Homo sapiens: one gene and its partners. The protein of the gene in region 3 purifies or fractionates together with the protein of the main gene of each other region. This does not show direct contact. Each region holds a gene or a part of one and is shown on either strand. Other genes may lie near its edges. The genes, in order: ITGA7, LMAN2L, CD1E and C1QL1.

Region 1 (7,960 bases), on a different chromosome or scaffold from region 3:
AAGTCAGCAGTACCCCCAGCCTCCAAACATAGAAGTGGCCATCTCTCTGAGTGTCGGGGCTGTCTTTTCATCTTTGTGCTTGCCCCATAGGGAGTGTCAGAATGTGTTTACTGAACACACACATTTTGTGGACTCATAGAGATACCCAGTGTCACAGCTGGTCAGTGCATAGCTAAGCACCCAGATAAGTTATCCTTGTTCTATGTTCACATCTCCTCTGGAGGCCAAAAGTAGGGAGGAGGGGAGGGGCCCATGTGGAAGAAAGAAGCTGAGTGCATAGATATGCCCAGTCCGCTCTTGGTGGAGAAGAGACCAATCGATCCTTAGTGGAACAAGAGCACCCAGCAGCATCCTCTCTAGTCCCTCCACCTCTGGTCCAGCCACACACACTCCTTCCTGGCTTCATGCCATACGCCCTAACCACCCCAGTCTTCTGGACAGCCACAGTGTAGCCACTGCAGAGAGAAAAGCAAAAAAAAAAAAAAAAAAGTGTTGGCAGCTGGGGGGCAGAGGGACCCCCTGGGAGCTCAGCTAAGTGAAGACAAAGGAGTAGCCCACGACCACTGCACTTCTCGATTCTCCACACACTCCAGGGCCCCAGCCCAAGTCCAGCCCCTCTTTGGCCCCTCTCAATCTGGGTGGCCCTCTGGGGAGGATGCTTGGCCTGGAAGGCTGGCTCAGCCAGGGAGGCCCTCTAGCCAAGCCTTTGGATCCAGAATCTCTGTAAGGCGCTCTGTGAATCACAATACAAGAATAGCAATACTACTAACACTTCACAGCACTCACTGCGGGCTATGCACTATTCTAAGCATTTTATATATATTAAGAACTCTTAATCTGCACAACAACCCTATGTAGTAATACTATGTTTATATCCTTTTTACAGTTGAGGGAAGTAAATGAGGCTGGAACCACACAGCAAAGGTTAGACCTTAAAGTCTCATCCCAGAGCTAGACTAAAAGACATCAAAACAGGCAAGAAGTTTTTTTCATCAGTGAGTGCTAAGGCAGGCCACCTGCAACTCAAAAGCTAGGGACTGAGCAGGTGCCTGGCCTCTCACATACCCCCCGCCCCCCAGCAGCAGAGCACCCCCTGCTGGAGCAAAAGCAGGGTGAGGCAGTCAGGCCCTCTGGGAAAGGCCCCAGCTTGGCTCTGGGAGACGGAACCAGGGGCCACCTTCAGAGAGGAGGGGGAAATGACAAGAGACCAAGCTATTAAAAATAACCTAGAATTTGCCTGGAAATAGCTTAGAGAGTTCAGCATGTCCTAAAAAGGCCTCCAGTCCTCGAACTCTGACAGATGGAGAAGGAGGGAGGAAGGGAGGGAGGGAGCAAAGGTGAATGAGGAAGCAGATGGTAAACAGAAGAGGAGATGAAGTCCGTTGCTTTCTATCTCTCCCAAAGTTTTGGGGACCACCGACCCTGCTACCAGATGATAGGGATAATGGAAGAAGAAAGATTAGAGCTAGGCCCCCACTCCCCAAGCAAGTGAGGAGAAATGAGCTCTTGTCCCTGCCCCCTGCCCCCAGACCGACAGTAGAGGCAGAAGACAGTCCCAGTGGACAGCATTGATCCCAGTAATGGATACTTAATGTGGCTTAGGCACTGGTTGAAGAGAGAAAAGCCCCCTAGCAGGAGCAGGTGAGAAGCTTTCTTCACCTCTGGCCTCCCTTTTTACAATCAGACATGTAGCAAGAGCCAAGGATACAGGCAACATGACCAGTCACAGGCCCCTCACAAAAGTATATCCATCTCCCATGGGTCCTGAACTGATTAGAAAAAATTAGAATTGTCCTCCACCCCTTACTCCTCCTGGCCCTTCCCAGCTGCTGAGATTCCTGGAGTTGGAAATTTGCTAAGGAGGAGGAAGGGGAGCAGCCTGGCCAGCATCCTTCCTGGATCTCTCTCACTGCTACAGCTGCTGCGGCTACTACTACTGCTACTAGTACTTTGAGGGTTCAGTTTGCTGCCACTCTCTATCACCAAGCCACCTACTGCAGGTTGGCAGACCTGCAGATCCTCTCCCAATCTTCCCGTGGTCTTAAGCCACAGAAGTGGAAGCTCTCTCCTGGCCTTCCAGTGCCCTGCTGCCCTCATTCCATCCATGGCAATGCTCTAGCAGGAAGTTATTTCTGGAGTCTGCCCTGCATGCATCCCTCTCATGGCACCCTCAACTTCTATGTCCTTTCCATCTCCTCCCATTCTAAGCAGAGACAGACAGTCTCCCTCCCTTGGGGAATTCAGCCCTTGGAAGAAGCAGGGGAGCCAGAGGCCCTGGGGCTGGATCAAGGATGCAAGTTGGGGGAAAGGCCCAGAAGAAGGAGATGGTTCGCTGCCAAGACAAGAACCTTGCTTTCCAACTCATCCCTAAAGCAAAATACTGGTCTCAGGGCCGGGAAGTGCAGCTTCAGACGCAAGCCAGATGAGGCAAGGCTCCAGGTTGGGATGTGGGATGTCTGTGGGCAGTCTAGGTCTTGGTGGGGCTAGAAAACAGAGAAATGAGGAGGCCCACAGAGTGGGGAGGGGGACGATCTGTGGCTCGGGCATGGCGACTCTGGGCGGGTGCGGTGACTCACCAGCTCTGGGGTCGGGGCTGCAACTGCCGGTGCAGGGCCACAGAGAAGCCGAAGAGGCTGCCTGGCTCGCCCTCCTTGCGCAAGGCACCCATCACGTCCAGATTGAAGGCGACAGCCCGTGAGAAGAGCAGTTCGACGAGCAGGGAGCCAAAAAGGTAGCAAATCCCGGAGGCCCCCCAAGGGTCGCGGCTCCGAGCCCCGGCCATGGGACGATCCCTGCGCGAGCTCCCAGCGAATGCAAGGGAAATCTCGCACGCCCCAAGCCCCAGGTCCCCCCAGGCGCGTCTCTGGTCTCCAAAGTCTCGTTGGTCTTTCAGACGTCTCCCAGACGTTCGCCCCGCCAGCCCTCCCGCCCGCCCGCCGCTCCGCCACCCCGCCGCCCCAGCACCGGCTAGGACAACTACAGCAGCCGCAGCTCCGGCGCCCACTCCGGCTCCCGCCTCCTCTCCCGGGGACGCCACTCAGGCCCCGCCTCCGGCCCCGCCCCTCGCTCCCGCGGCAGGTGGAGACCCAAGCCCGTCTCCAAGGGGATGCCCAGGCTGGTGGCTGGGATGGAAACTAGCCTTGCTGACCCCCCACCACCACGCCCCCCAAGCCCAGCACCGTCTCCGGCTCCGCCCCTGCGCGGCGCTCTCCTCCCCTTCTCCCCCAACCCCATCCCCACCCCGGGAGTGGTGGAGGCGGCGCCTTGGAATGCGGAGGGAGAGAAGTACAGATAGAAAGAGAGGGGCTGAAACAGAGGAAGGAGGGTAAGAGATGAGAAGTTGGGAAGACGCTAAAAGACAACCTGGGAAGAGAGATGTGCAGATAGAGAGGAAATGAAAGGGGAGCCGTCCTGGGCCTGGGTGCAGCGTGGCATCTTAGTGCTCCCTGTTCCCCCATGGTCACATAGAGCACTCTTTCTGCTGTTGGGATCAGACCGCTGCCCTCCCCCATCCTATCCCATCCCCCGCCCCCAGCCCGGCAATGACCACAGCAGTGCTAGCCACATCGTCAGGATTCAAGGGAACAGAGAAAAAGAGGCAAGAAGAGAGAGAGAAACTCGGGAGATACGGGGAGCAAATGGAGAAATGGAAAAAGGAAAGGAATAGAGAGGAAGAAAGAAGGGCAAGAGATTAATTGACAAGGGATGGAATGAAGGGAGAAAAGAAAACGACTGGGGATGATTACAGGAAGAGGAAATTAAGCAGTGGGGAGGGGAGTGGGTGTCAAAGAAGGCAAAGATGAAAGAGACTGGACCCAAGAGGCAGAGGGATGTAAAGGGTGTCCCCAGCTACCAGACCCGTCCCAGGACTGCACATTTCCTATCCATGAAAGGGGATGGGAGGGGGCAGAGTCCTGGACTGGCTCAGCAGGACCTGGGTGGGGCTGAGATGGGATCTCCACAGGGACCCATTGGCCTGTCCCTCTTCCTCTCCCTTTCCCTCAGGCTGGGACAGAGGCAAGGGGGTGGGGGGACACTTTCCAACTCTCTGCTATTTATAACTCCGATACAGAAATGGGGCCAGAAGGAGAGACAGGAAATAATTTGGCATAATGGGAACCTCGAATGCTCCCACTTCCCCTTCCTACTCCCCTTGCTTACTGGTGTTGGTCTTGTGAATATACATCTGTCCATCTTCCCTTCTCTCTCTCACTATCTGATTTTGTCTCATCCCAAATTCTATTTTGTCATCATTCTTGTCTCTGCCACACTTGGAATCTTTCTCAGAGTATTTCTCAATGTTTCTAGTGTTGTCTCTGCCCTTCAAACACTATCATATTCTTACGATTCTTTCTTCTCTTTCCCTTTCTTAAAAGTTCCAATAAGTGTCCTACCTCCTTCCTCTTCCTGTGTTCTGTCTTTCCTACTTCATTGTTCAGGATTATACTTCTTTGAAAACAAAAAAAAAGTGGGTTCTTACTCTGCTGCCCTGGGACAGTCTTTGCCTTGGATAAGTTAACAGACATTTGGAAGTCTGGCCCTCTGTTTTCCAATACTACACCTGTGGCTATCCCCTCCAGAGCACTAACACATCTCTAAACAGGTACTATAAGGAAATACATATGCTGTCAGCAGGGCTGGCACCAGGATTCTACTTTCACCATGCCCTCCCCATCCTTTTTAATATCTCAGAGCCCCAGACAGTAGAGAAGAGCTGACATGGGAATGCAGAATTGCAAAATTAGGACAGAACTGGGACTACTGACTCCCTGCCCAGGTCCCCCCGCCCCCGACCCAGCTCAAAATGCCTTTAGAGCCCAAGCTGCCTCCTATCTGCACCTGCAGCTTCTGCCTGTCTCCATTCCCACTCCACTGGCTTCTGTGATCCAGGGCTGAAATCAGATGCCAAGAATCTGCTTCTGACCTCCTCTCTCCAAATATTTGAGAAGTCACCTCACCACCACAGGAGGAAAGATCAGGAAAGAAGAGAGAGAGAGGCCACCCAAAATTAGCCTGGCTATAAATAGAGGGGCAAAGGAGGGAGGGGAACACACAAGAGCGTGCTAGACCAGCCTAGTAAATTTAGACATGTAGATTTCTCTCAAGGAGAAATGAGACCAGAATGTTGGAGTGGAAGATAATATCGTAGGTGAAGAGGGAAATTAAGAAACTAGACGGGGCCGGGCGCGGTGGCTCACGCCTATAATCCCAGCACTTTGGGAGGCCGAAGCAGGCGGATCACCTGAGATCAGAAGTTCAAGACCAGCCGGACCAACACGGTGAAACCCTGTCTCTACTAAAAATACAAAAATTAGCCGGGTGTGGTGGCGGGTACCTGTAATCCCAGCTACTCCAGAGACTGAGGCACAAGAATCACTTAAACCCAGGAGACGGAGGTTGCAGTGAGCTGAGATGGCACCACTGCACTCCAGCCTGGGTGACAGAGACTCCACATCAGAAAAAAAGAAAAAAAAAAGAAACTAGAAGGATCCAGAGAATGCGGTAAGCTCAATATTAAAATAAATAAACTGTTAGAGAACTTCTTGTATTTCAGTCAAGAGCTTAGGAATTAGTTAAATTAAAAATTAATGCTGAGCTGGGCACAGTGGCTCATGCCTGCAATCCCAGCACTTTGAGAGGCCAAGGCAGGAGGATCACTTGAGCCCAGGAGTTGGAGACCAGCCTGGGCAACATAGGGAGACCCCCATCTCTACAAAAAATAGAAAAGTTAGCCAAATCTGTGGTCCCAGCTACTCAGGAGGCTAGGCGGGAGTGTCACTTGAGCCCAGGAGGTGAAGGCTGCAGTGAGCCATGATCTTGCCACTGCACTCCAGCCTGGGTGATAGAGTGAGACCCTGTCTCCAAACAAAAAATGCTGAAACTGTATTATTCCACTCGCATACCATTCTCAAAATGACAAAACTATAGAAATGAAGACCAGATTACTGGCTGCCAGGGGACAAGGATGGAGGGGGGTGGGGACAAACATAAAGGAATAGCACAAGGGGGTTCCTTTGTGGTGATGGGTTTTGTATCTTGATTGTGGTGGTGATTATCCAAATCTATACAAGATATAAAACTGCACAGAACTACAAACAAACAAATAAATGCATGTAAAAAATGGTGAAAACTGAGTGAGGTCTGCAGGCCAGTTAACAATACTGTACCAATATCAACTTTTTGGTTTTGATTTTATGCTACAGTTACATAAGATGTCACCATTAGGGGAAACTGAGTGAAAGGTACACAAGACTTCATGTGCTATTTTTACAACTTCCTCTGATCTATAATTATTTCAAAATAATTTCCAAGCCAGACATGGTAATCCCAGCACTTTGGGAGGGAGGGAGGTGGATCACTTGAGGTCAGGAGTTTGAGACCAGCCTGGCCAATATGACAAAAACCCATCTCTACTAAAAATACAAAAATCAGCTGGGCGTGGTGGTACACACCTGTAATCCCAGCTACTCAGGAGGCTGAGGCACAAGAATCGCTTGAACCCAGAAGGCGGAGCCTGCAGTGAGCAGAGATAGCACCACTGCACTCCAGCCTGGGGGACACAGTGAGACTCTGCCTCAAAAAAAAAAAAAAATTTAAAAATTTTGTGCTTCTAAGGATACCACTAACAAAGTAAAATGATAATCCATGGAATAGATTATCCACTCCACTCCATGGAATAGATTAATACACTGTACTTCAGCCTGGGCAACAGAGTGAGACTCTGTCTCAAAAAAAAAGAAAAAGAAAAAGAAATGTGGCTAGTATGACTGAGAAACTGAACTTTTTAAATAAATTAAATGTAAAAATGAAAGATTAATAATCTTTATAAAAATTTCCAAAATTTTAGACGTTGAGAAATGTCCAGATCCAGCCAAGATTTTAGCCCTTTAGCTTTTGTATGAGTGGAAGCTGAGGCTTTCTCCAGCTCCTTCCCTTTTCAACATCTTCTTCCCCACTTTGAGATCAGTATTTTTCAGCTCCCTCAAATCACACTTTTTGCAACTGTTGTCTCTAGCTTACAAGCAAACACTTCCAGAACACACACTTCAGGGCTAACTTCTCCCTCCACCTCATCTGGCAACAGAGCCTTGGAGCTTATGTCCCAAGGTCAGGCTTTTCCGTCCCAACATGCACACCATGAGAACTTTTTTACTTCACTCACCTCTCCAGCACTGGAATCCTTCTGCCTGCCTCTGAATTCTGGTTGTAGTCAAAGCTTGAACCATGGGAGTGGCTGGGAGGAAAAGAACATAAATGTGATTGAGGGAATTCAGTGGGGAAACAGCTTGACCGCTCCGGTCTTTGACGATCCAAAAGAAACCCTTAACACTTGAGAAGGACTGGGAGGTCACTTACCAAAGGGAGCCATTTGGACTGTCTCAAGGGCCCCCTTTCTTTGAGCACTGGCTTCAGGCCAACATTTGGAACTTAGCCACACCACCACCAACCCCCTCTCTTGAAGCCCAGCCAGATCTCCCAGTATGTGAAGCCTTGTCTACTCACTCTGTGTCCTCCCTCAGCCCTCATCCAACCCCTAACAACTCAGCAGCTTCCAGCCCTGTTTGGCCCAGCCAGTCAGTTTGGAGCTTGCTAATTAAAGCTAACTCTGAAAGAGACCTCAAAAGAAGAGGGAAATGAGTGAAGAAAGGAGTGTGGAGTTGCATTCATTCAGTCCAAGGGAAAATAATCTGAGTAGGAAATCGTAAGGAGAGGTGAGCAGAAAGAGACTTCAAATTTCAAGAGTCATTCTCCAGATAGATATGTATGCGACTTGTGTCCATCTCTACCAAGGACAAGTGAAGCTGAGCTTCAACTGCAGCAGAAACTAAGGTTAGACAGTGAACAATAAAGGCCCAGAAAAAGAACAGATGGAGGATAACCCTAGAGAGATCAGATGGGGACACTAGATACAGATACCCCATGTCCTCTGCTCAGCTCTAGGGCAAAGGAACAGCCAGTG
Region 2 (7,023 bases), on a different chromosome or scaffold from region 3:
AATAAATTTTTTTTAATTAACATCTACAAAATCCTTACAAAATAAACCCAAGTCAGAATTTCTACTTTCTCAAACCAGAATTACTACTATCTCATGGTGAAATGGAAGCTAACAGAGTTTGAACAATTTGTTTCTGGAAGAAACAGAGAGACAAGTTTAAAACTCTTGTCAGGCCCTAAAGCTGATAACTCTTATTCAGATCCATTTCTAACTACCACTATTTCCTCAGCATGACTACAAATCCAGTCATGATCCTCTCTTCAATAAAATCCTTTAATGTACCTACCCCTTCAGAATCAAGTCCAGACTCCTCAACAGGAACACAATCCTTCAGAACTTGGCCCCAAGTGGTATATGGTGAGCATGAGTCACATACATTCAGTCTGCTCTGGCTCTCATCTAAACAGTTCAGCCACCAACCACCCAAGCAGATGCCAGTCAGTCTCAGCGGCTAGTTAACATGCCGAGGCTACAGTGTTAATATTGTAGAATGCAAGGTGAACAGCAGCCCTAGGAACTGTGCAACATAACAAGACTACTGGCCCTGCTTTTCATTCTAGCCTCATCTGTCTCTGATTCTACTTTATTTCCACACACTCATTATCCCCTCTCTCTCTCTTTTTTTTGAGATGGAGTTTCACTCTGTCGCCCAGGCTGGAGTGCAGTGGCGTGATCTCAGCTCACACTGCAACCTCCACCTTCCAGGTTCAAGCGATTCTCCTGCCTCAGCCTCCTGAGTAGCTGGGACTACAGAAGCATGCCACCACACCTGACTAATTTTTGTATTTTTAGTAGAGACGGGGTTTCGCCATGTTGGCCAGGATAGTCTCGGTCTCCTGACCTCGTGATCCACCCGCCTTGGCCTCCCAAAGTGCTGGGATTACAGGCATGAGCCACTGCACCCAGCCTCATCATCCCCTCTCTTAACCTTAGGACCTCGGCTTTTTTCCCTCTGCATGGGACACGGGTTCCTTACTCTGCAGACCTCAACCTAAAAGGCACTTCCTGGAAGAAGCCTTCCCCACTACCACCAACACTACTGCCCCACTTCAGGTTAGAAGCTCCTGCTGTGTCCTCCCATAGTGCCCCAGAGTTCCCCCATCAGCATTCTCAGTGCTACTGAGTACAAGGACCATGTTATCTTGCTCACTAATTCCCAGGGCCTGGCACCTAGAAAGTGGTTAATGTATGTGGAATGAAGAACAGCCCAGAAGGAACACAGAGAAGCAGCTGTAACTGATCCACAACAAAAGGTTATTCTCCTAACTCAGGTCTCACATTCCACCACCTTTAAAGTGAGCTCGCTGGGCACAGTGGCTCATACCTGTAACCCCACCACTTTGGGAGGCCAGGGTGGAGGAATCACCTGAGGTCAGGAGATGGAGACCATCCTGGCCAACATGGTGAAACCTTGTCTCTAAAAATACAAAAATTAGCTGGGCGTGGTGGCGTGTGCCTATAATCCCAGCTACTCAGGAGGCTGAGGCAGGAGAATGGCTTGAACCCAGGAGGTGTATGTAGGTTGCAGTGAGCCGAGATTGCACCACTGCACTCCAGCCTGGAGACGAGCGAGACTCCATCTCAAAAAATAAAAAAAATAAAAAATAAAAAGTGAGTTCTGTGGGAAATGTTAACAGCTGTTGAATCTAAGCATCACAGATACAATGATCATTCTCTATTCTTCTAATTTTTTTTGTTTATTTTGGTGACAGTCTTGCTCTGTTGCCCAGGCTGGAGTGCAGTGGTGTGATCTCAGCTCACTGCAACCTCCGCCTCCTGGGTTCAAGCCATTCTCCTGACTCAGCAACCTGAGTAGCTGGGATTACAGGCTGCAGTGCAATGGCGTGGTCTCAGCTCACTGCAACCTCCACCTCCCAGGTTCAAGTGACTCTCCCACCTCAGCCTCCCAAGTAGCTGGGACTACAGGTTAACACTAATACTAATAAAAATACTAATTTTTGTATTTTTAGTGGAGACAGGGTTTCATAATGTTGGCCAGGCTGGTCTCAAACTGCTAACCTCAAGTAATCTGCCCACCTCGGCCTCCCAAAGTGCTGGGATTACAGGCGTGAGCCACCATGCCTGGCCTTCTAATGTTTTTTAAGTTTGAAAATTTTCATAATAAACCTTTGAGGAAAAAAATAATGTGACCTTTGCCTCTATTTCTAATCCTGATTTCCTCGCTAGGTACTTAGCTACAGGATACCCAGCAACAACCTGTCATAATTTCCCACCATCTGATGGCAGTGCCGTAGGACATAGAGAGAGTACAAACCCACTGTCAATATAAGAAAGCAATAGCCGGGCATGGTGACTCACGCCTGTAATCCCAGCACTTTGGGAGGCCGAGACAGGCGGATCACGAGGTCAGGGGTTCGAGACCATCCTGACCAACATGGTGAAACCCCGTCTCTACTAAAAATACAAAAGTTAGCTGGGTGTGGTGGCATGCGCCTGTAGTCCCAGCTACGCGGGAGGCTGAGGCAGAAGAATAGCTTGAACCTGGGAGGCAGAGGTTGCAGTGAGCCGAGATCGCGCCACTGCACTCCAGCCTGGGCGACAGAGTGAGACTCTGTCTCAAAAAAAAAAAATTAAAAAAAAAAAAGAAAGCACTAAAAAACTCTTAGGTCAGGTAACAAAAAGGCCTGCCAACAGCCAGATACTAGGTTCCAACAAAATGCTGGGCTTTCATCAGTTTCCTTCTCGTTATAGCCTTTTCTTTCTTTCTTTTTTTTTTTTTTGAGACAAGAGTCTCACTCTGCTGCCCAGGGGGGAGTGCAATGGTGTGATTCTCTTGCCTCAGCCTCCCGAGTAGGTGGGATTACAGGCACCCACCACCACACCCATCTAATTTTTATATATTTAGTAGAGACGGGGTTTCACCATGTTGGCAAAGCTGGTCTCGAACTCCTGACCTCAGGTGATCTGCCCACCTCGGCCTCCCAAAGTGCTGGGCTTACAGGTGTTAGCCACCACACCTGGCCAATTATAGCCTTTTCTATAGGCGAGGAGAACTGTTCTTCAGGTCTGAGAAGAAGAAGAAGAAAAAGAAGCTGAAAAGTGTGTGCAAGTTGCAGAAGAGAGCACAGCACTGATGGATTAAAAGTCAGGGGAGGCTGAGTTACGTAAATTCAGCTTGCTCTGGTGCTGGTCTAGCAGCCAAATCACCAATCAACCAAACATGCTCAATTTTAGTGGCTATCTAATAGGCACAAGAGAGAACATGATTATCACTAAAGAAAAAGCCCCTGTTCAAGACAGCTATTCCCAAAAGACTGTGCACTCCTAAATAGTCCCTTTAGAAAAAAACACTGACAAGGACATTAACTTTCAAAGTTCAACAGATGAAGAACCCCTCACTTTCTATCTCCTTTGTTCCCTCCTGTACAACATTCCTGAGGCAAAGAACTGTGATGTCAGTGTAGCTGACCTAGGCTCTGACACTTGCCATTACCTCTTGCTGCTTCTCCTCATTGGGGTAGGTGTCTACAAATACTCCCAGCCCCACAAATTTGTCCATGTTTCCAAACACAGGCCCTAGAGAGAGAGAACAGATGATGAACAATGAAATAAAGCTAAGAGTTGATAAAGGAATAATATATCACTATGATGGAGGAAAAAGTAAAATTCAAATGACTCCCAAGCCTCTCTCAAGATGAGAAAACACATGTTTAAAAGTACCCAGCAAAGTGCATGGCCTGTAACAAGTGCCCAGTAAATATCTGTAATTGTTTGTTGTTGGAGGCAAGGGAAAGAGAGAAGGCCACTGCAACCTTATTTAGCACTCAGGCAGCTTCCTGATCCAAACTGGTTGCTAAGGTGCCCCTACAGAATTCTGCTTTACAAACAATTGGTAAAGACTATGCCCCCAAGAGAGAACTGAATTCCCTAGTTCTCCTTCTTGTTGCAAAAGAGATCAGGTCAAATCAGGTTGAGCCTGCCATCTACATGGAGCAATAATAGCTCTAACACAAGGAAAATAGATAACTCTTCTCTTGACTCAGCAGTGCTGAGATCATTCACTGTAAATGTTCAGAAGAAATCAGCTCACCCAATCGTCAGCGTTCAGGAGAGCCAGTGCTTTCATCCAGCCAACAGGCCAGGTAGTTTCACAAGGAAACTCAGAAAGAAGTAACAAGCAAGCAACTGCCTCAGGATGAGTCAAATTCAGCTGCTTATGAGGACTCAGACCCGTTCTAGAGACTAGAAGGGCCAGTGTTCATCCACATACATTAAGGGAGAGGGAAAACAGCTGGCACTGTGGGGAAGGAACCTTTTCAAAAAGAGGGCACATGAAAAATCAGGCTGTCACACCCACACAAGAGTAACACAGGCTCCCAATACCTGGCTGCATCCGATCCTTTGTGTACCAGATTGCCAAGCCATCCCCATGCAGATTCTTCTTTCCTTGTCCATGGATTTTGAAGTGCACCTGCAACTCCCAGTCTCTCAGGAAACATGGCTAAAGTGAGAAAGACATTAGAATCAATGAGGAGCATGAAATGCAAAACCCCTCAAGCCCACATCAGCAATCAACAGACTTGGAAAACACAAATGCAGGTAACACTAGACTAAGGGTTAAAACTTAAATCTAAGACTTGCTATGTGTTCATGTCATAAAATTAAACGGATTGAACCATTCAACTGTTTAGAGATTTAATATGAAAATGAATAAACCTCCCGATTATCTTCAACATTTCCCAACAGAAACAGGACAGAACTCCAAAGTTGGAAAAGACAAGAGTGTACCAAACTCCACTCCTGTGATCCTACACCCACCCAGCAAAGTAGCTCGGCTTTTAGAGTACAGATGGCTGAATTCATACTCATTTACAACTCAAGATCACCCCTCAGACAGAAAGACTCTGAAAAGCTGGATTTAAAGAAAGGTCAAAGCCTAATTTATTACAGTAGAAAAAGAAAAGCTAAGCTGTTATGCAAACGTTTCCAGGAATAATTAGCAGATACTACAAACAACTCTAATTAGCTAGACCTGGCCCTCTGCCAAGCTGAGGGGTAAGCCAGAATTCTCACAAGAAGAGCAAGTTACAGTCCCCAAACCCTCCCGTCCATGGCCAAGAAGCTTAAATGCACTTGAAGATGGATGCAAGTGGATGGTTAAGTGTTTTAAATAGTTGAACGGTTTCAAGAAAAAACCAGAGTGGGTAGTTGATTTAGGGAAGCTTCTGGTTAAAAGTCTACTGTGAAGAAAGAAGTGAAGGAAGAACAGACAGACCAGCTGGGTTCAGCCAAAGGCTCTCCAAATAGACTGTTCTGGGCAACTATTGCTAGATCATTTTCAGTTTTCATTCTTTATTTCTGGGATATTTTCCAACAGTGTTCATATTAGAAGTACACAGTCAAAATGAAAGGGGATTGGGTACTCCTGCATTGAGCAAGGGGCCTGAAATCTCCTACTCTATTGAGCCAGTCTCTGTCTTGTCACTCTGGATTCTTATCTCTCTGCTGTTTCATTACGATTTCAGAGAAACGGCCCAGCGCGGTGGCTCACGCCTGTAATCCCAGCACTTTGGGAGGCTGAGGTGGGCAGATCACAAGGTCAGGAGATCGAGACCATCCTGGCTAACACGGTGAAACCCCGTCTCTACTAAAAAATACAAAAAATTAGCCGGTGTGGTGGTGGGCGCCTGGAGTCCTAGCTACTCAGGAGGCTGAGGCAGGAGAATGGCGTGAACCCAGGAGGCAGAGCTTGCAGTGAGCTGAGATCATGCCACTACACTCCAGCCTGGGCGACAGAGCGAGACTCCATCTCAAAAAAAAAAAAAAAGATTTCAGAGAAAGGCCAGGCACAGTAGTTCACGCCAGTAATCAAAGCATTTTGAGAGGCTTTGGTGGAGGATCATTTGAGCCCAGGAGGTCCAGGCTGCAGTGAGCTGTGATAGTGCCACTGCACTCCAGCCTAGGCGACAGAGTGATGAGACCCTGTTTCAAAAAAATAGCTTTCAGAGAAAGAGTGAAATTCAGTGGGGCAGGAAGCTGCCAGGAGGTAGGTATTATGCCCCTGGGAAGAGGGCAGAGTCACAGAAGTTCCCAGTGAGCCAAGAGGTGTCTGTCACTGATTCCTGGCCTCCTACAGCACAATGCTATACTGTTTTGCTCAGGACCATGTCTAATTGTGGTTCTGAAATTCTGCCACACACTGGATTCACCTACGGAGTTTTAAAAAATCCCAATGGCCAAGCTGCACCCTATTCCAATTAGATCAGAATCTCTGGGGATGAGACCCAGGCATTGATTCCAATGGATAGCCAAATTTGAGAACCACTGCTGAAACAAATGCATCCTATTCAAATAACTCAGAAACAAGCCCATAGTCATGGTGATAGCCAGATAACAGCGAATACAGGTATCAGAAGTCGAAAAAGGGAAGAACTAGAGGCTATACTAGAACTGCTGCTACAAGTTATGTAGAGACAGACAGCCAGCAAGACAGCAGCAGAGTATCAAGCCTTGAACATAATCATCCGGTAACCCACAAGAGCCCCATCAACAAACCTGTAGAAGTGTAATAACATAACACATATTTCTATAACCATTTTAACTTGCCACAGTCTTTTCATGTCTATTGTCCTATTTTATTCTCACGACAACCCCAGTGGGCAAGTAAAACAGGTATTCTGAAGCTCATTTATCAGATAGAGAAACAGAACTAAGAAGTTAAATAATCTGCCTAGGGCTCACAGGAGGACTGTGACAGAGCTGGACCGAGAATCCCAGTCTTTCAACTGTCCTTTATCTCTGCTACGAAAACACAATGCTCTGTACTCTGTCCAAAAATGAGCTCGGCACTATGATCTAGGTTAAGGGGCCAGTTTGTGCAGATAGCTAATGTAGAAATTTCTCTTGCCCTCCTGAACAGGGAAAAGAAATCGTTCTCTTTTCTGAGATTCGCTTATCTACAACTAATGAGAAAAGCCACGTAAAAAAGTAAGTTCTTAGTTTAAGAGAATTCCAGAGAAAGTATCAAAGGATGCCAGAGTCATGCCCAAAAGTAAACTGGTC
Region 3 (7,390 bases):
TGTGAGGACTGCCAGCACGCTGTCACCTCTCAATGCCACTGCACTCCAGCCTGGGTGACAGAGTGAGAATCCGTCTCAAAAAGAAAAAAAAAAGAAAAAATGTAACTATGTGAAGTGATGGATATGGTAATAACTTGACTGTGGCGATTACTTCACAGTATATACATATATCATAACATCATGTTGTGCACCTTAAGTATACCCAATTTAAAAAAAATTAAGGTAGAATATAAATATATAATTTATCATCTTCACCATTTTAAAATGTACAGCTCAGTGGCAATAAATACTTTTTTATACTCAATTTTTATTTGTTGGTTGTACCTCACTAAAGCTGAAAAATATATTTGAATAAATGTTAAAGAAATGTAAGTATACACAAACAAGAAAATAAGTATGTAGAAATTGCAATCTTTCCTGAAAATAAGCCAAAAGAATAAAACTCGTATTTAAATTCTTTGAAAAAAAATTAGCAGATGGAACATTTTCTTACATTTGTACAAATGTACTCAAAAATTTTATTTTAAATCAATTTTAATGAGTTATCTCCCATAAATTTCTTACATAGAAAGATTAAGTTGTCCAAAGGCACATCTTATAATATGTTTTGAGAGAATTTTCTGGTTTTGGCAAAAGGGGATCTGCGAATGTGACTGGGGCAGCCTCAGGAAAACATAAGAGGGGGAATTTCTTTTTAAAAGAGACCTCTGGCCACAGACACTAAGTATTTTTAGTAAAAAATGTGGTTAGGCACTGATGGAATATTTTTTTTTTTTTTTTTTTTGAGACGGAGTCTTTCTCTGTTGCCCAGGCTGGAGTGCAGTGGCACAATCTTGGCTCACTGCAACCTCTGCCTCCCAGGTTCAAGCGATTCTCTTGCCTCAGCTTCTCGAATAGCTGGGACCATAGGCACGTGCCACCACGCCCTGCTAATTTTTTTGTATTTTTAGTAGAGAGGGGTTTCACCGTGTTAGCCAGGATGGTCTCGATCTCCTGACCTCCTGATCTGCCTGCCTCGGCCTCCCAAAGTGCTGGGATTACAGGAGTGAGCCACTGTGCCTGGCCCACTGATGGAATTTTGTAAAGCAGGAAGGAAATAATTGTACCATATAATGTTACAAAAATTAAAATTAATATATATTTTTTCTTTGGAATTTATCTTCTGGATAATTTTAATTTAGAAGGAATTTCATTATTTTGTTAATGATTATGGGGTTGCTGTCAGACATTATTTCTACTTTGCTCAGTAATTTGCAGTTATCTGTGAGTTCTGTAGCCTCAAAATTAAAAACTAGGGTGTGGTTATCTTTACTTACATAAAAGTGCAATTTTTTGTGGAATAACAACATTGTTTTATTCTCTAAATATACTTTGCTTTATTTTACTTTGCAAATGATTTTAAAATTCTCCCTCTTTTTTTTTTTTTTGAAACAGAGTCACACTCTCCTGCCCAGGATGTAGTACAGTGGCACAATCTCAGTTCCCTGCAATCTCCACCTCCTAGGCTCAAGCAATTCTCCTGCCTCAGCCTCCTGAGTAGCTGGAATTACAGGCACACATCATGGCACCTGGCTAATTTTTACTTTTTTTGGTAGAGACAGGGTTTCGCCATGTTGGCAAGGCTGGTCTCGAATTCGCCTGCCTTGGCTTCCCAAAGTGCTGGGATTACGGGTGTGAGCCACCGTGCCTGGCCTGATTCAAAAATTCTAATGGCCGGGGCACGGTTGCTCACGCCTGTAATCTCAGCACTTTGGGAGGCCGAGGCGGGTGGATCACGAGGTCAGGAGATCGAGACCGTCTTGGTCAACATGAAGAAACCCTGTCTCTACTAAAAATACAAAAAATAGATGGTCATGGTGGCTCTTGCCTGTAATCCCAGCTGCTCAGGAGGCTGAGGCAGGAGAGTCGTTTGAACCAGGGATTCGGGGGTTGCAATGAGCCGAGATCCTGTGGCTGCACTGCAGCCTGGGCAACAGAGCAAGACAGCAAGACTCCGTCTCAGGAAAAAACAAAACAAAACAAAAATTCTAAGGAATACAGTTACTTGTAGTATTGATGTTTGGCATAGGTCATTCCAATCTTTTTATTATGTATTATTGTTTTTGTAGGTTATTATATATTCTCTTGAATATTTATCTTTGTTTACTGTTCATAATTTTATTATGAAACCAATTTTGGATTTACATAGCGATTTATAGATAGATTTACATAGCAACTTATAGCTTTGAATGTATTTGTAGAAAAGAAAGAGTATTGAAAATAAATGTAGACATTCTACTCAGGAAACAAGGAAACTTTTTTTAATCTTTCTTTAACCTTAGAATTTAGAAATGATAATAAGATGAAACTAGGTTTGGACCTTTTTCTTTTGTTTTTTTGTTTGCAGTTTTTTTTTCTTTTTTTAATTATTTTTATTTATTTATTTATTTTTTATTATTATACTTTAAGTTCTAGGGTACATGTGCACAACGTGAAGGTTTGTTACATATGTATACATGTGTCGTGTTGGTGTGCTGCACCCATTAACTCGTCATTTACATTAGGTATATCTCTTAATGCTATCCCTCCCCCCTCCCCCCACCCCACAACAGGCCCCGGTGTGTGATGTTCCTCTTCCTGTGTCCATGTGTTCTCATTGTTCAATTCCCACCTATGAGTGAGAACATGCGGTGTTTGGTTTTTTGTCCTTGTGATAGTTTGCTGAGAATGATGGTTTCCAGCTTCATCCATGTCCCTACAAAGGACATGAACTCATCATTTTTTATGGCTGCATAGTATTTCATGGTGTATATGTGCCACATTTTCTTAATCCAGTCTATCATTGTTGGACATTTGGGTTGGTTCCAAGTCTTTGTTATTGTGAATAGTGCCACAATAAACATACGTGTGCATGTGTCTTTATAGCAACATGATTTATAATCCTTTGTGTATATACCCAGTAATGGGATGGCTGGGTCAAATGGTATTTCTAGTTCTAGATCCCTGAGGAATCGCCACCCTGACTTCCACAATGGTTGAACTAGTTTACAGTCCCACCAACAGTGTAAAAGTGTTCCTATTTCTCCACATCCTCTCCAGCACCTCTCCAGCACAGAAAGAGTATTGAAAATAAATGTAGATATTCTACTCAGGAAACAAGGAAACTTTTTATCTTTCTTTTAACTTAGAATTTAGAAATGATAATAAGATGAAACTAGGTTTGGACCTTTTTCAATAATTCTGACCACCGTTCAGTAAATTTACTGTATAAGAAAAGTAGAGGTTTGGGGTTGAATTTTGTTTTATTTTTTCCCAAAGATGTCTATCTCTGATATCTTAGGGCCTGGCAATTGTTTTTGGTCATAGGTGGGCTCTGAATAAATGTCAGTTGAACAAATATATAAAAACCAAACAAAGGAATGTTATTTCAACTGCCTTCAGAGTGTCACAACAAATATCAATGAAAAAGAAACAAAAATAAAGACTCAATTAATTCTCCAGTGAACACTTCAGTCCTCTAAAGGTACTTCCCTGTGTCCACCCAAACTGCTCTCTAACCGAACGCAAGCAAGGGGACTCCAATGCTCTCAGGCCATGAACTAATGAGGAGCTTCATGCCTGCCCTCAGTCTTTCTTCATACCCAGGGCAAAGCTGGCCCACAGACTTCCAGACATGCTTTCTTCGTTTGGGTAGAGATGGGGATCCAAGTCCCCTATGTATTTCCTCCAGAGCCACCTGTAAAACATGGGTGAAATCTACCTGCCCTCTAGCTCACCACTTCCAGGTCAAGCCCACTCATGGACCACTTTAACAGTGACAGTTGGCTTGACTGGGGAAACTGAAAAAAAGGAGCTTTCTTTAGATTTTCTGATAATCTGCATTGCCATTGCTGCTCCTTTTTCAGCAGCACAGAGAGTTGGATTATGGAGGGTTGCCTGCTTATTATGCAGCTACATCCAGGATGCTGAGTGTCTTCTGATCATGATCAAGAGCAGAGTGAAGAGATACAGGCGGAGGAGAGGATCACAGAGAGGTAGAAGTGGGAGACTGGTGGATAGGTCACTAGGCACCACTGAGTGACTACCATCACTTCTCACAGATTAGATTATTGACAAGCCAAGTATGGATTTGATTTCTACAAGGCCAAAAGCTACTCCATCTTCTAGCCAGACCACAGACTTTGTTTTAAGCCAGGACTCGTTTTCCAGCAGTTAGTGCAATTAGGGAGGTTGGGAGGATGTACACAAGAGCAGGGAGAAAATCTGGAGCCAGACAGTGAGAGAGGCAGAGGGGAAATGAAAAACCCCGTGGGAGGCTGCAGCAAAGCGAGGCAGTGTGGCTTCTCTGACAGGGAAGTCAGCAGAGGGAGAGGTTTGTCTGTCTGTACAGCAAGGGAAGTCAGACGAGAGTGCAAGAGGGTGTGGAGAGGGGTACTGATATCTGAATTATTAGGGCAGGTGTCCTGCCAAGGAATCCCTCCTTTAACAGAGCTTCAATGCTGCTCCTGTTCCTCCTCTTCGAGGGTCTCTGCTGTCCTGGGGAAAATACAGCAGGTAAGAAGAGTGCAGGTGGAAAGATACCTATGGTAGGGCACCAGAGGGCTGAGAGGAAGCTCTGGGGAGGTCCTGGGGGAAGGGAGCAGTACTCTTCTAGGATGCCCTTGGAATATGCCTTTCAGGCTAGTTCCAGGCAGAGAATTCTTGCTCTCAGTCTCAGTTTTTGTCTCTGATTTTGGAGAAAGGAAGCTGGCCCCACAGGAAAAGGGTATTGGAGTATGTACAAGCTACCTAACTGTCTCTCATCTCTGGGTTCCTTTTTTCCCTTTGGCATCACTTTTCCCATCCCTTTACATTCTCTCTACTTGTCATTTCCCTCTCTCTCAGCTCCCCAGGCTCTACAATCCTATCATCTAGCAGCAGAGGAGCAGCTGTCCTTCCGCATGCTCCAAACTTCCTCCTTTGCCAACCACAGCTGGGCACACAGTGAGGGCTCAGGATGGCTGGGTGACCTGCAGACTCATGGCTGGGACACTGTCTTGGGCACCATCCGCTTTCTGAAGCCCTGGTCCCATGGAAACTTCAGCAAGCAGGAGCTGAAAAACTTACAGTCACTGTTCCAGTTATACTTCCATAGTTTTATCCAGATAGTGCAAGCTTCTGCTGGTCAATTTCAGCTTGAATGTAAGTTCGTTGCTCTAAGCTGATAATTTGCCTGGGAACACCAACTATTTTCCAAAGTGGAAGATAGTATATAGACTCTGACCATCATTTAACCTTACTAACCTTGTTCCCCACTCTCTGACTCCCACTCCCTCCTCTGCTTCACCCTTCACCACCACCCACACTCCACCATATACACAAAAGGGCCTGCATGTACATATCTCAACATGAATATAGCTTCATGTCTGGCTCTTTGGAATGATTGTCTCCTCTGGATCTTCTGCCCCTCATTCCTGCCCTCAGACTCAGCCTTTCTCAACCCTCTTTCTGCCCTTCTTTATCCTTTGCCTGAGTGTTGACATGGACTGGCCTGTACCTAACCACTTTCACGTGAATTATTTATGACCAATCTCCTATCTTCCTGATAGCCTTCCCATCTACCACTTTCCCATTAGTTATTTCAAAGTATCTTTATTATCTTCAAATTTTCTTCCCACAAATTTTCTTCCCCTTTGCCAGTAAACTCTAGTCTCCATATGATTTCCCAGCAAATTTTTCTTCCCTTGAATCTCTTTACTGTCTAAATTGTTTGTTTTTCTTCCTTGTCATTCTTTCCATAATGATCTCTCTTCCCTGTCCACTCTCAGACCCCTTCGAGATCCAGATATTAGCTGGCTGTAGAATGAATGCCCCACAAATCTTCTTAAATATGGCATATCAAGGGTCAGATTTCCTGAGTTTCCAAGGAATTTCCTGGGAGCCATCTCCAGGAGCAGGGATCCGGGCCCAGAACATCTGTAAAGTGCTCAATCGCTACCTAGATATTAAGGAAATACTGCAAAGCCTTCTTGGTCACACCTGCCCTCGATTTCTAGCGGGGCTCATGGAAGCAGGGGAGTCAGAACTGAAACGGAAAGGTGAGCCCAACTCTCTCTCTCCCCTCTTGTTCCTAGTACTATAACTCTCATATTTGAATTTGCCTCTCATCATCATTTTGAAAGACATAGTGAGAGACTAGAGAATGAGATGTGTGGGTTCAGGACTGTTTCTTAGACAAGAGAAAGAAGTGATTACTAAATCACTCTTAGTATTATTACAAAGGCACCTGAGTCTCTGAGCTCTGGCCTGGGGTGCCCTTCAAAATTCCATTTTTTTTCTATCTTCTTCTTCCTAGTGAAGCCAGAGGCCTGGCTGTCCTGTGGCCCCAGTCCTGGCCCTGGCCGTCTGCAGCTTGTGTGCCATGTCTCAGGATTCTACCCAAAGCCCGTGTGGGTGATGTGGATGCGGGGTGAGCAGGAGCAGCGGGGCACTCAGCGAGGGGACGTCCTGCCTAATGCTGACGAGACATGGTATCTCCGAGCAACCCTGGATGTGGCGGCTGGGGAGGCAGCTGGCCTGTCCTGTCGGGTGAAACACAGCAGTCTAGGGGGCCATGATCTAATCATCCATTGGGGTGAGAAACAGCTGAGGCTCTGCTGGGAAATAATGAAAATAGCCCTGGGGCTTTTGAGTGTGGGGCTGAGGAAATGGGTAGGAATGCTAGGTACAAGAAGGGTAAAACTGGGACAATCAAAATAAAGAAGGATAGAGTATGACAGTAGTTAAATTTTAAGAAAATGGAAGTAGAGAATTAGACATACTAACAGAAAAAGGAGGAGGAACTAGTGATTTAGTGGGAGAGGGTTGGGAGGAGATCACAGACAAAGGATCAGGAGGAATTGAAATGAGGGCTTTGGAAAACCCAGATGAAAATTCTAGGAAGGTCCCACCCTTGTGAAATGGGAAATCTCAGCTTGGTGGAATAGAGTATTTTAGGGTTGGTATTCTTATTCTATCCCCAACCAGGTGGATATTCCATCTTTCTCATCCTGATCTGTTTGACTGTGATAGTTACCCTGGTCATATTGGTTGTAGTTGACTCACGGTTAAAAAAACAGAGGTGAGCTTTTTCTTGTTCTTTGTTTCTTCAGCCTGTAATCAATTCATTCCTTTTTCCTCTATCTTCTTTTTTTTTTTCTCTGCCTTTCCCCTTTATTTCCTTTCTTTGAGATTAATATCCTCCTCTTTTCCCACAGTTCAAATAAGAACATTCTTTCTCCCCACACACCCAGCCCTGTCTTTCTCATGGGAGCCAACACTCAGGACACCAAGAATTCAAGACATCAGTTCTGCTTGGCACAAGTATCGTGGATCAAAAACAGAGTATTGAAGAAGTGGAAGACACGCCTAAACCAACTCTGGTGACATTTGC
Region 4 (6,134 bases), on a different chromosome or scaffold from region 3:
CCAGGCACGGTGGCTCACGCCTGTAATCCCAGCACTTTGGGAGGCCGAGGCAAGTGGATCATGAGGTCAGGAGATCAAGACCATCCTGGCTAACACGGTGAAACCCCATCTCTACTAAAAATACAAAAAATTAGCTGGGCGTGGTGGCAGGCACCTGTAGTCCCAGCTACTTGGGAGGCTAAGGCGGGAGAATGGCGTGAACCCGGGAGGCGGAGCTTGCAGTGAGCTGAGATCGCGCCACTGCACTACAGCCTGGGTGACAGAGCGAGACTCCGTCTCAAAAAAAAAAAAAAATACAAACATTAGCTGGGCGTGATGGTGCATACCTGTAATCCCAGTTAGTCAGGAGGCTGAGGCAAGAGAATAACTTGAACCCAGGAGGCAGAGGTTGCAATGAGGTGAGATCTCGCCACTGTACTCTAGCCTGGGCAACAGAGTGAGACTCTGTCTCAAAAAAAAAAGAAAAGAAAAGAAAAGATAAAAACGAAAAGAAAAGAAAACCAGGAGAAATAGTGGGGCCCGTAGCCCCCTCTCCCATGTCCTTTATGACTTCTTCCAAATTGCCCAAGAGACTCATTTGATCTCACTAGCCATCCCACTTGTTAGTTTTGAGCCCCTACTAGGAGCCAGATTTGAGGCTTTGTAGGAGTTCAGTCCACTTGCCCTCCAAGACCTCATGGCCTATGCAGGGGGAACATTCATAACATACAACCACACGCCCCAGCGAATACTGTGTTAAAGGTGGGCTGGGAGCCCAGCTGATGACTTTGGTCCCCAAATGTGTTGGCTGGGAGGGAGTGCTTCAGTAGGGCCTACCCTGGTGCAGACCAACCTGATGCAGGGGGAGAAGATGGTGAACCTTGGTCTGCAAAGTGAGGAGATACCACAAGGGAGAATATAAAAGGTCAAGTGTAGGGGAAAGCCAGCTCAGAGGTGGACAAGGACATTTAAATAAGCAGAGAAAAAAATGGCAGGACCAGACAATGTATGGGAACAAAAGAGAGAAGCTTGTATCTCTTGTGACTTCAGAACCAGGGGCCACCCTGAGCACTGCGCTTTTCCTTCCTGGCTTCCTGCCTGTAGAGAGGCTTCCAGAATTTCTTTAGGGAGGCAGAGCTGAATCTGGGCTCTGCCTCCTCTCCGGGCAAGTTCGGGATGGGGAGCACCACCTTCATGCCTGGCACTGAGGCTCCCTCTGTCCTTATCTGAGGCCCACTGGCCCCAGTCCTTAGGGGTAGCCTTGCATCAGCACCCCTGATGGCACCAAGTCCTGGCCATTAGGATGCAAGGAGCCTGGGGAAAGGACTCTGGGTTGGCAGTGGGGCCCTGGGTGTGGTGAGTTGCCTGCAGCTGCCTCCAAGATCCACAGTTCAGGTGGGTTGGAGAGGACACAAAATTAATAAACTGGGCAGGGGGCTTTGTGAGGATGTGCCAGGGCCTGTGGTCAGGGTGCTGCTTATCCAGGGTAGGAGGCTGTGGGGAGGTGAGTATCACCAATGGGCCAGGGGTTTGACAACAGAATCTGAGTGTGGCGAGAGGTGCTGGCATATATAAATTGAAGGTGGTGGTATAAAGACCTAAGAAGGCTGTGCACAGTGGCTCACGCCTGTAATCCCAGCACTTTGGGAGGCTGAGGCGGGCGGATCACCAGAGGTCAGGAGTTCGAGACCAGCCTGTCTAACATGGTGAAACCCTGTCTCTACTAAAAATACAAAAAAACATAGCCGGGTGTGGTGGTGGGTGCCTGTAATTCCAGTTACTCGGGAGGCTGAGGTAGGAGAATCACTTGAACCTGGGAAGTGGAAGTTGCAGTGAGCCAAGATCGCACCACTGCACTCCATCCTGGGTGACAGAGCAAGACTCTGTCTCAAAAAAGAAAAAAGACCTAAGGAGATCAGCCTCTCCCCTGGTGGTGGCAGATGGCCCCCTGGCTATCCTTTCTGGCCCCTAATACCTTTCACAACACAGAGCACAGTGCCTGGCACAGTGGGAATGCAGTTAATGTATGTATGAAAATGCAAGTGTCCCCCATGGGCCAGGCTGGCTCCCCTATGGGAGCCACATCTGTACACCCAAGACCCCAGCATTGATCTGAGGGCAGGAACGTGTTTCCTGGATGCCCTCTCACCCAGTTCCCTTGGTCAGACCATTGCCTCAGTTTCCCCTCCTGGCAGCCCTTGAGGAGCTGATTATACAGCGCTCCCTCATAACAAGGCCCAAACCTGCTTTCCTGCTTCCTTGGCAACCTCATTTCCCCACACTTCCCCTTGGACCCCAGGAGGAGCTGCAGGCCTCAACTGTCTCCAGTCAGGCAGAGAATTGGGACCCCTGGGTTCCATTCTTGGATCCCCCACCATCTAAGGATGGAAGGGCATAAATTCTCTCTGCCTCCATGGATAATTAGGATAATTACGGCAACAATCATGGTGATGAATAAATAATAAACATAAGCATAACAGTTCTGATGCAGTCACATCACCAGGAGATTCCTGATGACAGATGACTCTGTTCCAATGGATTTGGCTATTAAGGAGCACACTGTTTTAATGAGTTAAGGCTAAATTAATCTGGGCAATAAAAATAATTGTTATTAGTAGTAATTTATTAGCAAAGATAATGAAATGCATGTGTAATAATAAATATTACCAGGATTAGGGCTCAGGGAACAATACAGAAGTTGGCTGTTTGCTTTCAGCTCTTCCCTAATAACTCAAAGCCCCATCAAGATCTAATGTTTTTTTTTCTTTATCATCAAAAGACTTTTACAGAGGTGGCAGTGGTGAGGCAAAGTCTTCTCATCCATTTTCTAGACAGAGAAACTGAGCTCCTTGGCAGACAGCATCTCCCCCTTCATTTATTCCCTCCCACCTTTAACTAGACCAGTTTTCCCAGCTAAGCACACAAAGAGTTTCTTCTCAGGTTGGGAAGAAGAGGTTGAGGGAAAAGAAGGGGCTGGAGAAGGGCTTTAAAGGGAGGCCCTCATGCAAATATGTCGGGTCCTCTTCATTGCAGCATCGCGGCTGAGTCAGCAGCTCTGGCACAGCTGACCTGCAGTGCTGCCTCCAGCCCAGGAGAGAGGATGGGCCCCTCCCCTAATTTGGCTTGGTTCTACCCAGACTTCAGCCCTGGGAGTTGGGATGGTAAGCTGCCTTCAGTGAAGGGACAGGATAGAGAGGGGCCGTGGAGAAACCTGGCTGAGAGAACTCCACTCAGTGCAGCCTCCCCACACCACAAGCCACAGTCCTGGAGAGGGCGCTTCTCTTCCATGTCTCTACCCAGGATACCCTGGAGAGGCCCCGATCCTCAAACTCAGGACTTATGTTTCCATACCTGTTAGCTGAATGTCTGTAGATCATTCGTTCACCACCACACAATCTCTCTCTCTCTCTCTCTCTCTCTTTTTTTTTTTTTTTTTTTGAGACGGAGTCTCGCTCTGTCGCCCAGGCCGGACTGCGGACTGCAGTGGCGCAATCTCGGCTCACTGCAAGCTCCGCTTCCCGGGTTCACGCCATTCTCCTGCCTCAGCCTCCCCAGTAGCTGGGACTACAGGCGCCCGCCACCGCGCCCGGCTAATTTTTTGTATTTTTAGTAGAGACGGGGTTTCACCTTGTTAGCCAGGATGGTCTCGATCTCCTGACCTCATGATCCACCCGCCTCGGCCTCCCAAAGTGCTGGGATTACAGGCGTGAGCCACCGCGCCTGGCCTTTTTTTTTTTTTGAGACTGAGTCTCACTATGTCGCCCAGGCTGGAGCGCAGTGGCATGATCTCGGCTCACTGCAGCCTCCATTTCCCAGGTTCAAGTGATTCTCCTGCCTCAGCCTCCCCAGGAGCTGGGATTACAGGCGTGCCACTATGCCTAGCTAATTTTTGTATTTTTAGTAGAGATGGGGGTCTCACCATATTGGCCAGGCTGTTCTCGAACTCCTGACCTCAAATGATCCACCTGCCTGGGCCTCCCAAAGTGCTGGGATCACAGGCATGAGCCACCGTATGCAGCCACCACACAATCTCTTATGATTATAGTCAGAGCCCCCAAAAGTGACGGCAGGCTCCAAGCCCAAATGCTGGTGCTCCCTTGACCCATTATCCTGCCTGTCCCTCCCCATCCCCCATCAAGGCAGGGACCAGCAAGGATGTCACATCAGACTGAGAATCCCAGAGGGAAGTAAGGCCTGGATTCCCTTCTTCCCACCCAGTTCCTTTCTACCACCCTGAGGTGAGACAGGAGGAGCTACAATCCTCTTTGGGTGGGTAGTGACAGGTACATAGCTACAGCTCCATGGAGGCTGGCACCCAGGCCCCTTCTAAACTCTGGGAGGGGAAAGCATTACCAGGCCTTCTGTCTCACTGCTGCAGCAGGAGAGACTCTGGAATGCACTTCAGACCAAAGACCTGGCCCTGGTTCCAGGGTGGTTGCTGACTGGCAGCCTGGCATTGGTCCAGCTGCCTGACCTGTGGGGCCAAGGTGTGCCCTTGTGTCCATCCACTGACATAAGATCCAGCGGGTGTGGCTGAAACGATGGCATCATTATGAAAGCAGAGAGGAAGGAATGATGAGAGTAGGGAAGGCCCTCCATTCCCTGGAGGTCCAGAGAATTCCTCTTTGCAAGGACAGGCTTCCAGGCTTCCTGGAGGTATTGAGGTTCTCAGCCAGCTGGAGGGAAAGCCCTATAAGAGTTAAGGAGGAAGACTCTGCCTTGACTCCCAATTCAGGCCCAGATCAGACCTGCCCTAGAAATCCAGGGATCCTCTCTGCCCCTTTCCTGAAACAAGTCCTGTATGATTGGAAGGGGGCGGGGGAGGGGGAGCGTGGCAGGGATGAGGCGAGGCTGGAGGCCAGGTTTCTGGGTCTGCTGATCCTCCCCCACGGGACTGCCTCACCTCCCTCCCTTCTCATCCTCTCTCTCCTCTCGCCCTCCCTCCCGTGTCCCCCACCCGCAGGTGCGGGCCAGTGCTATTGCCCAGGACGCGGACCAGAACTACGACTACGCCAGCAACAGCGTGATCCTGCACCTGGACGCCGGCGACGAGGTCTTCATCAAGCTGGATGGAGGCAAAGCACACGGCGGCAACAGCAACAAATACAGCACGTTCTCTGGCTTCATCATCTACTCCGACTGAGCTCCCCACGTCTCCCTCCACCCACGTCCCTCACCCGCCGGGGTCCCCTCCGGGCGGGGCAGACGATGACTCGCCCCTCGCCCACCCGCTCGCTGCCCGGCCCTCCCCGGCTATGACGCCCCCGGCCCGTGCTCAACACCGCCTGGGCCACAGCTAGGCCCTCCCACCGGCTCGCTGCAGAGCCGGGCCCAGCGCGCCCTGTCCCCGTGCCAGGGAACCGGGGTTGACCGCCCCCGCCCAGCCCGCGCTATATATTTGTACAATAGGACTGTTTACTGCCCACCTCCGCCTGCCAGCCCACCCCAGCCTGGGGAGAGGTCGCGGCGGCGGGTTTGCTTCCTGCGCTCTGAGATGAGCTGCCCTCCGCTCCCTCCGGGGTGGCGCGCCCGGGGGAGGGGGGAGTTGGGGGCTGGATAGCTTCCCAGCACCCTCAGAGCCCCCGCCCGGCTGTGCCCCGTCTGACCAAAGTTATAATAAAAACATTTTCACCCCGCAGGGGTTTCAGTCTGTGCCCTGGGGAGGGCTGCGGGAGGCGACGGTGGACCGTGCCCTCCTCCAGATTAGGAAGGGGTCTGGTGGAAGTTTCTAGGGGAAACCAGGTGCCAGAGCCAGAGCTACTCCAAGAAGAAGTTGCCAAAGGGCCTAAAGCCCACCACAACCCAAGTGGGCCTGGGCAGCTGGGATGGGAAGCAGCCCAGTTACTTCATCATCTTCCATGGTGGACACATTCCTTTTTTTTTTTTTTTTTTTTTTAGACGGAGTCTCGCTCTGTTGCCAGGCTGGAGTGCAATGGCAAGATCTCGGCTCCCTGCAACCTCCGCCTCCCGGGTTCAAGCGATTCTCCTGCCTCAGCCTCCCGAGTAGCTGGGAATACAGGCGCACACCACCACGCCCAGCTAATTTTTGTATTTTTAGTAGAGATGGGGTTTCACCATGTTGGCCAGGCTGGTCTCAATCTCCTGACCTCATGATCCGCCTGCCTCAGCCTCCCAAAGTGCTGGGATTACAGGCG

Evidence for each region.
Region 1: the proteins of CD1E (region 3) and ITGA7 purify together in Homo sapiens (affinity purification with mass spectrometry; 2 studies listed by BioGRID and IntAct, with this or other methods). This does not show direct contact.
Region 2: the proteins of CD1E (region 3) and LMAN2L purify together in Homo sapiens (affinity purification with mass spectrometry; 2 studies listed by BioGRID and IntAct, with this or other methods). This does not show direct contact.
Region 4: the proteins of CD1E (region 3) and C1QL1 purify together in Homo sapiens (affinity purification with mass spectrometry; 2 studies listed by BioGRID and IntAct, with this or other methods). This does not show direct contact.

The regions. Positions count from the first base shown.
Region 1 is NC_000012.12:55,704,901-55,712,860, forward strand, and holds the start of ITGA7 (integrin alpha-7 isoform 2 precursor), read right to left. Parts: upstream 3,005-7,960; 5' UTR 2,783-3,004; coding exon 2,577-2,782; intron 1-2,576. UniProt on the Homo sapiens protein: Integrin alpha-7/beta-1 is the primary laminin receptor on skeletal myoblasts and adult myofibers.
Region 2 is NC_000002.12:96,730,065-96,737,087, forward strand, and holds part of LMAN2L (VIP36-like protein isoform 2 precursor), read right to left. Parts: intron 4,463-7,023; coding exon 4,345-4,462; intron 3,538-4,344; coding exon 3,455-3,537; intron 1-3,454. UniProt on the Homo sapiens protein: May be involved in the regulation of export from the endoplasmic reticulum of a subset of glycoproteins. May function as a regulator of ERGIC-53.
Region 3 is NC_000001.11:158,349,514-158,356,903, forward strand, and holds the start of CD1E (T-cell surface glycoprotein CD1e, membrane-associated isoform a precursor), read left to right. Parts: upstream 1-4,380; 5' UTR 4,381-4,475; coding exon 4,476-4,533; intron 4,534-4,863; coding exon 4,864-5,160; intron 5,161-5,786; coding exon 5,787-6,056; intron 6,057-6,313; coding exon 6,314-6,592; intron 6,593-6,984; coding exon 6,985-7,078; intron 7,079-7,214; coding exon 7,215-7,383; 3' UTR 7,384-7,390. UniProt on the Homo sapiens protein: T-cell surface glycoprotein CD1e, soluble binds diacetylated lipids, including phosphatidyl inositides and diacylated sulfoglycolipids, and is required for the presentation of glycolipid antigens on the cell surface. The membrane-associated form is not active.
Region 4 is NC_000017.11:44,959,176-44,965,309, reverse strand, and holds the end of C1QL1 (C1q-related factor precursor), read left to right. Parts: intron 1-4,942; coding exon 4,943-5,122; 3' UTR 5,123-5,617; downstream 5,618-6,134. UniProt on the Homo sapiens protein: May regulate the number of excitatory synapses that are formed on hippocampus neurons. Has no effect on inhibitory synapses.